Linked DNA regions of Homo sapiens: region 2 is linked to region 1. Evidence: fine-mapped expression QTL. A gene starts in region 1. The other region holds a variant in brackets. All regions are shown on one strand. Distances are between the middles of the regions.

What was found. PIP is the estimated chance that this variant, and not a neighbour inherited with it, causes the effect. A credible set is the group of variants that fine-mapping cannot tell apart.
Region 2: its variant is the best candidate, but not a certain one, in a credible set for the expression of TCP11 in lung (TOPMed, PIP 0.85).

What each region holds. Positions count from the first base shown.
Region 1 is chr6:35,139,540-35,143,539 of GRCh38, forward strand. TCP11 (t-complex 11) reads right to left here and starts at 1,800. Exons shown (of 10, transcript NM_001370687.1): 1 at 1,666-1,800; 2 at 1,208-1,345. The coding sequence starts at 1,331.
Region 2 is chr6:35,080,384-35,084,894 of GRCh38, forward strand. ANKS1A (ankyrin repeat and sterile alpha motif domain containing 1A) reads left to right here. Exons shown (of 24, transcript NM_015245.3): 17 at 611-775; 18 at 2,308-2,433; 19 at 2,772-2,843; 20 at 3,034-3,120; 21 at 3,738-3,875. Among named protein-coding and RNA genes, the nearest start is that of TCP11, 59 kb to the right of the region's middle. RefSeq lists an enhancer at 865-1,536. The variant G/A (reference allele first, on the strand shown) is at 2,346.

The DNA.
Region 1 (4,000 bases):
AAATATGTAAACAGACTCACTGCTAATTCACTAATGCTAAATGAGAGCTAAGAGAAAATCTTCAGAAGGGGATTGAACTACAGCAGCTTATTGAGGGACGGAGGGAAATATACACAGAAACACTTTCCAACTACAACAAATCAAAGTTCATAGCCTGCCTTGATAAGACTTCTGTTGCTCAAAAGTTACACAGCACTAAGCAATTCCAAAACAGCTCTAAAATTCAGGAATGAGGAGAGCTCAAAGAGAAATTAGAGATAAAATTTAACCGAAATAGATTTTAAAAATCCAGATCCCAAGGACAAAGACATTTTCAAGTAATATAACAACCAAGTCAACCTAATACACAAAATTTCAAATTTTTTTAAAAAGGAATTTGATTATTCATTTTACTGAGAGTTGTTTTATATATGGACTCATTTAAATAGACACCTCAAAAACTTAAATTGTGTGTACAAAAAAACGGATTTTTCATCCTACCTCAGGTTCATAGCTGTTGGAAATGACCCCAATATGCCTTTTGGTGCCATTCAGTTAACCAGCAGCGACCTCATGTGGCCACAAGAAAAACCAATCTAATTCAGCCGCAAAGCCTCAATCTAATTTTTCGCATTTCAATAGTCAAGAATTTTATCTTGAGTTGTTGCACACGGACAGCTCCTCAGTTTGATGACTAGTTACGTTCTCTGGAGATTAAGAGAAATACAGCATGAGTCCCAGTGAGACTGGACCTACCACGAAGCGCGGAGAAGACCTTGTGCCCCAACAAGAACACAAAAGAACACCCACTACAGAACCGAGCTAGAGACTGGGCCCAGGACACTACTATTTCTTGAGTTAGCAAAGCGCTGAGAAAACCCAATTCCCGTCTGGGATCATTTGGGTTCTTTAAAATCAATCCCAGATCTATCTGCCAATCCCCCCTACATATTCAAAATACAATACAAAGGAGGGCTTTGAACCGACTCAGTCTCAAATCTTGTCAGATTCAAGTAATCACGCTTGGGTCACTTCTTTCTCTAGAACCAAAAACTCTTTGAAGACCTCTGCCCTCGGGCCTGTAAGTAAAGGCGGGTGGGGGAGAAACGGAGAAAGACAAACGAGAGAGGGATAGTGAAGAGAGAAAACTTGGGGGATGGGGGGGCCTGCGGACCCCCCACACTAAGCACCCCCTAGGGGGCCACAGGGACTGCCGAGCTGGACCTACAGGGAGGGGGGTCCTCGGAGCCGCTCTTGTCTTCCTGGGGGGGTCCTGAGGTTTCGGGCTTACAGGACCTGCCCTCTGAGTCGCCAGGATATTTCGGGGGCACACTCTCCTTGACGTCTGGCATTTTGCTGATGGTATCTGGGTGAGGGAGAAAGGCGTGTTGTTGGCGTCGGGGAAGGGGCCTCCCCAATTGCCAAGGGGGTCCCTGGGGGCGGCGGGAAGGGGGGTAGCGGCCTCAGGGTCTTGGGGGTGCTGAGGGGCAGAAAGGGGCAAAGGAGCGTGGAGGAGCGGAAGTCGAGAGTGGGACAGAAGTGGAGCGCTGGGCGGCAACGAGGAAACTAAAGCCACAGAAGCCCGGCGCAGGGCGGGAAGCGTGGGAAGGCCCCTTCCTTCGCGGCGAGGTGCCCCCCTCGCCCGAAACGCCGGCCCAGGCCCGCCTCCGGCTCCCAGGCCGTCACCTCCTCCTCCCCCGCCGCGGGTCATCCACTGGCGTCCGCTCGGTGGGCCTCGCGGCCTGGCGGCCTGGAGCGTACCACCGCGGCGGAGCGGCGGGTTGGGGCGTCGCACGGTGAGAAAGGCCGGGGCCTGAGAACAAACCGCCGCGGTCGCCGGGGCAACGGGACGGGGCACGTGCCCCCCCCGCCAGAGCCGGAAGCGGCAGGCTCGTGCGTCCCTCCTGAGCTCGAAGCCAACCAGGCCTCGAGCGGCTCGCTGCGGCCGGTTCATGCCGGTCAGCTCCCGCCCCTCGAGAAGGATGGCCTGGAACTGCTGAGACGAGGCCAGAGCATGCATGGGGCTTTTCTTCAGGCTGTTTGGACAGCCGAGAAGCCGAGCCACACCCAGGAGGGTTGTTTCACAGCGTGTGCCGCAGGGGCGCAGGGGCCGCGCTCTTTCCTCACATGTGGGAGAAGCGGAGGAGCCGCCAGGGCTGGGGCCAGGCTCTGCCCACTGGGGTTCCGCCCGTTGTCGCCCTCCGCCTCCTGGGCTCTAGCCCTTGCCTTTCTTGACTCTAAGTCTACTCTGTCGCCCTTGCAGTGATGTGAAGACCTGGAGTGCCCCTGCCTGAGAAAATAGAAAGGAAGCGTTTCCTCTTCACCTGCTCCCGTCTCTCTTTATTACTGTGTCATGACTTCTTACCATAAAAGTGTACAGTAACAAAACAAAACAAAAGATGAAAGTATTATGGTAAGAATCCGGGCGCGGTGGCTGACACCTGAGTCCAGCAGATCTCCTGTCAGGAGTTCGAGTCCAGCCTGGCCAACATGGTGAAACCCCGACTCTACTAAAAATACAAAAATTAGCCGGGCGTGGTGGCGGGCGCCTGCATTCCCAGCTATTCGGGAGGCTGAGGCAGAGAATTGCTTGAATCCGGGAGGCCGTGGTTGCAGTGAGCTGAGATTGCGCCACTGCACTCCAGCCTGGGCAACAGAGCGAGACTCTGTCTCAAAAAAACAAAACAAGGCCAGGCGCGGTGGCTCGAGCCTGTCATCCCAGGGCTTTGGGAAGCCGAGGCGGGTGGATCACCTGAGGTCAGGAGTTTGAGACCAGCCTGACCAACATGGAGAAACCCCGTCTCTACTAAAAATACAAAATTAGCTGGGCGTGGTGGCTCATGCCTGTAATCCCAGCTACTCAGGAGGCTGCAGCAGGAGAACCGCTTAAACCTGGGAGGCAGAGGTTGCGGTGAGCCGAGATCACGCCATTGCACTCCGGACTGGGCAACAAGAGCAAAACTCCGTCTCAAAAAAAAAAAAACAAAAACAACCTTTGCCTTGTTAGTGTGGAGTGTGGATGTTTCTTGCACAACTCTTGGGTTTGGAGGGGGAAATTATAAAGACACCCAAAAGCATTTGTGCTTAAAAAAAGTCCATTCCACCTTGAGGCCCAGGCATATACCAGGGGAGTGGCCTAGCCAAGTTACTGTTTATCCAGAGCATCTCAGACTCATCCATACCAAACCTACCCCTTCCTCCTCCTCGCCCTCTCCTGCTATTTCCCTCAGGGATGCCAACTGTGAAGCAGGCCAGCCTTCACCCTAAAACCACCAGAAGTGGGAGGAAGTTGCATGATGACTTCAGCAAAGAGTTCAATGAAATATGATGCTTCCTTATTACATAGGGAGATATTTAGGCTGGGTTATTGATTTCTCTTTAAAAATGCAAATCAGGAATTCCATTTGGCATTTTTACTTCTGGGAAAGTTTCCAGAATAACACCAGTTCGTTTCCCCCACAAAAATTGCATTGCTGTAAAACTCCCTACTGATGTCTGAAATTCCTCTAACAATTCTTTCATATATGTTAAATTGTCTGTTTAAATATTCTCTTAATATTCGAATTGTCTGGGAGGGTCAGTGGGAAGAAATAGCAGTCCAGGAGCACATGGTAGTGTGAGAGGGGGGTGGGGGAGGGTGGAGAGTGGGGAGGGGACCGAAGCCAGAACAGGAGGAAAAGGAGGTAGCAGAGAAAGACAAAATTAGTTTTCCCAGGGTCAGCCCAGGTACAGCATTTCATGATCTTTATCATTAATAGTCATCAGAACCAACCAAGCAAAAGTTAGAGGTTGAGGGGAGTAGAAAGATCAAGTAAGAGATATGCACTTCTTCCCTTTGGGGTCTTAGTTAATAACTGATTTCTCTGTAATGATTTACAGAATGCTTTTACATCGCAGATCTATATGCTCTGCACACAATCTCATTCAGTAGGCAAGGCAGGTGTTATACTGGACTGTCTGAAAGGTGAACAAGCTGGGGATCAAAGAGGTTTCAGAGAGTAACCAAAAGTCACACAGTAAG
Region 2 (4,511 bases), 59 kb before region 1:
ACTCAGAGCCTGCAGCTGAGGAAGAGCTCTCCCCCAGCCCCAGGCCAGAACATGCAGGAATGGCGGTAACTAGAGCAGCCGCTCCCCGAGCCCTCGGGTGCACTGGGCCTGCCCCGCAGGTCTCACCCCATTGAACCCTCAGGGGCTTCGTGAAGTGGGTCCTGTTCATCCTCCTTTTACAGATGAGAAAGTGGAGGCCCAGCCTTGCTCTGGGAACCAAACACACAACTGACATTCAGATATAGACACTGAGAAGCCAGGATTGTATTCTGTTGGGGACGGTGGCTTTAGGGCCCTGACTGACAGGGCTCCATTTTTTCTCAAGGGGGTGCTTTGTTTGGTCATGTGCAGAGGCCTGCAATGGATCAGGACAGAAGATTTAATCTTTTATAAATGCAAAAGTGGCTTCCCCGCCCTCTCGGGGGACACTAGTGGACGGTGGCTGCGTGGTGCCACCTGTCTGACACCCCTGTGGTGTTGGCCCCTTCGCTCCCTGCTGCTTCTCCCGGTGCCGCTGCCTGTGCCGTCCTAACCAGTGGGGCTGGCTGATACCTGTAGTCGGGCACTGGGCCGAGGGTTGCAAGTTCCACCTGGATTTTTCCCTCCACAGTGCCAAGATTTGCTCTCCCAGACGTCATCCCCACTGAGTCAGAATGATTCCTGCACTGGGCGGTCGGCAGATCTGCTGCTGCCTCCAGGGGACACAGGCAGGAGGCGCCATGACAGTCTCCATGACCCTGCGGCACCCTCCCGAGCGGAGCGCTTCAGGATCCAGGTGGGGCAGGGGGAGTGGAGGTGCAGCCAGGCTCTACCTCATTCCTCTGGGTGGGACAGGGCCTCCCAGAACCACCTGCTGCCCCATACTTGAGCACAGTTGGGCTGGCACCAGAGTCAGGAGGCACTAGCCTGCTCTGCTCGCCCACACCCAGCCGCCTTGCGTAAGGCCCACCCAGCACCCATGGTGCCGAGCTCGGGCCGCACAACTCACTTTAGCTGTCAGCTGCTGGGGCCACTCCTGTGTCCTGTACTTCCCTCCCTCAGGGGTTCAGATCCCCTGTCCGCTCTTTCTCTGTGGCCTCTTGCGTCCTGCACTGCCTCCCCTGCTGGCCCCAGAGCCCTCTGTGCTCTCCTGGCCTCTGAGCTCCTTCTTGGCCCCTTCCTTCTCTGCTTACCCACGTTGTTCCCCAGAACTGCTTTCCCTGCAGCTTCACCTCGGCAGCATTCTCTTCCTCCTGCTCAGCAAAACCACAGCCAGACCAGATTCTGTTCTTCCTGTTCTCTGCCTGCAGCCCCGTGGGGGGCACCGCTGGAGACGCCTCCTCCGCTCCCGGTGCCCGCTCCAGCCCTGGCGGAGGTGGGCCCGTCTCACACTCCTGGCTCACCTTCTCAGGGCATCATTTCCAGGGGTCCTGGATTTACTCAGGACCTGCCTGTCCTGCCTCCCTCCTTGTACGGACCTTGGCTTTGTCCTTTGTCCTCTTCTTGGCCTGTCAGACACAGGATTAGCAGGTGTCCCTCAGGCCCCTCCGGGTGAACTTCAGCTTCACCCCTGCTTGTTTCTCTGACTCTCACTTCTCACTTCTGGCTCTGGGGACTTCCTTTCCCTTTCTACAAGCACAGCCATGAGTTTTAAAGGATTTTTAAACACATTGTCCAGCAATTCCGGTTGCTGTTGAGAGGCTCTGCGCACTGCTGGGAAGGGAGGGCCTCCGTGTTTCCTGAATCTTTTCCTTCCTCTCCATTCCTTCCACCAGTGCCCTGGACAGGGACCCATGATCTCTCACCTGGACCGCAGTGGCCTCCCCCACCCCCTAGCTGCTGCCAGAAGGATCCATTTGGAATGCATTCCTAGGCACGGGCGGGTGCTTCACTGGCTTCCCCGCTGTGAAGATCCCTCCCAGGCCCTGGGCTGGGTCCCAAGGCGTCCCAGGGTCTCGTGGGCGCTGTTCTCTCCTTTGGTCTTTGTGCAGAACAGCCTGGCAGCCTGTGCCCCCCACACAGACTCTGCCATCTCCTCTCTGGTCATTTCCCATCTCCTTTGAGACTCATCTCGGACACCACAGAGACTGTCCTTCCCAAGCCCTGCTCTCAGGCGGTTTGGGTCCCTGCTGTGCCTCTGCTGTGGCTAGCACCTCCCCTCTCCCGCAGTGTGTTTGAATTGCTGGTCTGCCCCCTGCCATCTCCACTCGACCCTTGAACTTGCTAAGGTCACTGGCATCTTCACCCTTGAGTGTGCTGGAGCCAGGCAGCAAGCCCATGTGCTCCTCTGGAGCAAGGAGCAGGTGTCCAATTGCGTGTGTTTCGCAGGAGGAGCACCGTGAGGCCAAGCTGACCCTGCGGCCCCC[G/A]AGCCTGGCAGCCCCCTACGCCCCAGTGCAGAGTTGGCAACACCAGCCAGAGAAACTCATCTTCGAGTCCTGTGGTTATGAAGCCAATGTGAGTTGCTCCCACCCTCCCAGCAGGGCCGGCCTCCCTGCTCCTTCTCGGCCAGGCACCTGCGGCCAAGTCCCAGCAGGGACTCCACAAAGCCAGGCCCAGGGCTTTTGAGCTGTTCTCCACTCTCAGCCACTCTTGACAGCTAAGGCGAAGGGGTGGAGGCCTCTGGATCCTTTAGCTAGGGAGTTGAATGGAGGGTCTCTCCAGCTGGGGCAGGAGAGGGGGTGTTGTTATTGAGAGGGGTAACTACTTGATTGTGGGACAGTCCCAAATTGGTTGGGTCACCCCTGCATGGAAACGCAGGATTTCCTAAGCCTGGCCACTGCTCGCCCCCACAGTATCTGGGCTCCATGCTGATCAAAGATCTGCGAGGGACAGAATCCACGCAAGACGCCTGTGCCAAGATGCGGGTAGGGTGCCTGTGTGGGCTGGAGGGCGCTGTGGGACTGGCCAGCAGAAGGCAGCAATGGGGGCAGTAGCTGCAGTTGCCTGGGCCCTGCTGCACTATGTAAGGATGGGAAGGAAGCTGGGACCTGTGGAAGCCCAGGAGGCTTAGCCCTGAGAAGGGGCACTGACAGGGCCACCCCTTGTTTCCTGTAGAAATCTACGGAGCACATGAAGAAGATCCCCACCATCATCCTGTCCATCACATACAAAGGTGTCAAGTTCATCGATGCCTCCAACAAGGTGTGCTGCTTACAGGGACTCTTGGTGGGAGTGGGACCCACATCCCCGTCAGACCCACAGGGCTCCAGGGCAAGCAACCCGGCTGCCCTGTCTCATCTCTTATCTCCCTAGAGGGTCCCCAGTCCTCTTATTACTTCCCACTTTGCTAAGAGGCGTGTCTCTCATCTGCTGGCCTGGGTGCCTGCTGTCAGCCCCGTCCCCGCCCTAGTGATCACTGCTGTTAGCCTCGCCACCTGGGCTCCACTGGCCGCACACCTGCTCACAGGTGTGATTCCCTCCGTGAGCAAAGGACTTTCTCTGTGTGCCACCGTGTGGGATCCCACCTTCCTGACACCCTTCCCACTTTGCCCCCACCCTGGAAGGTGGGAGGGGCTGGGGAGAGCTTGTGGTTGGGTGTGAACATTTTACTGCCTTAGTTGTTGTGGTAAGGGGTGGAGACCCCAAACCAAAATCGGGGACCCCCACCCCCACCAATAAACAAAATGAGAAGATGAAGGGGGGTTTGCTTGATGCTCTAGGCTGGGACAGAGAACAGTGACAATGGTAACAGGCTGGGGCAGGGGGTGCCAGAGGCATGCCTGAGCCTGAGAATTCCAGAACACGGCTTTCCCCAGCAGAACGTCATTGCAGAGCACGAGATCCGGAACATTTCCTGTGCGGCCCAGGACCCGGAGGACCTCTGTACCTTTGCCTACATCACCAAGGACCTGCAGACCAGCCACCACTATTGCCATGTGTTCAGCACCGTGGATGTGGTGGGTGGGGTCCTGGGGCCGGGTGGGGCAGGCTTGGGTTGCAGCCCTGAGGCGTCCAGCCCCATTGCAGGGCACAGATGCGGCGCTGTCCTGGCCCCTGGCCAGTGCCTGGCAAATGTTTGGTTCATGAATGGAGCCCAGCAGCACTCAGGCCGGTCCCCTTTCACAGTGATGAGACTGACGCGCAGAGGGAACAGGGACTGGCCCAGGGCACTAGGGACAGGAGGTTCCAGCTTTTTTTTTTTTTTTTTAAGAGATGGAGTCTCACTATGTTGCCCAGGCTTGCCTTGCACTCCTGGGTTCAGGCAAGTTACCCACCTCAGCCTCCCACGTAACTGGATAATAGGCGTGAGCCACCGCCCCTGACTTTCCAGCTTTTTGGCGAGTGTTTTCTTAGGTCAGGCAAGGCCTTTGTTTCCCCCGGCTCCCTGCCCTAGGTCTCCAACCTCTGGCTGGGCCGCCTCCCAGAAATGCCCTCTACTTCCCTCTTAGGGGCAGTGGTGCCCTCTTTGGCAGATTTTCTTCCCTCAAATTCCTGCTGAGGCTCGGCTCTGGATGCCACTGGGCCGAGGAGAGTTCATTCTCACACAGCTGCCCACAGGGAGCAGACCAGAACTGACAGCCCACAGGCGGGGG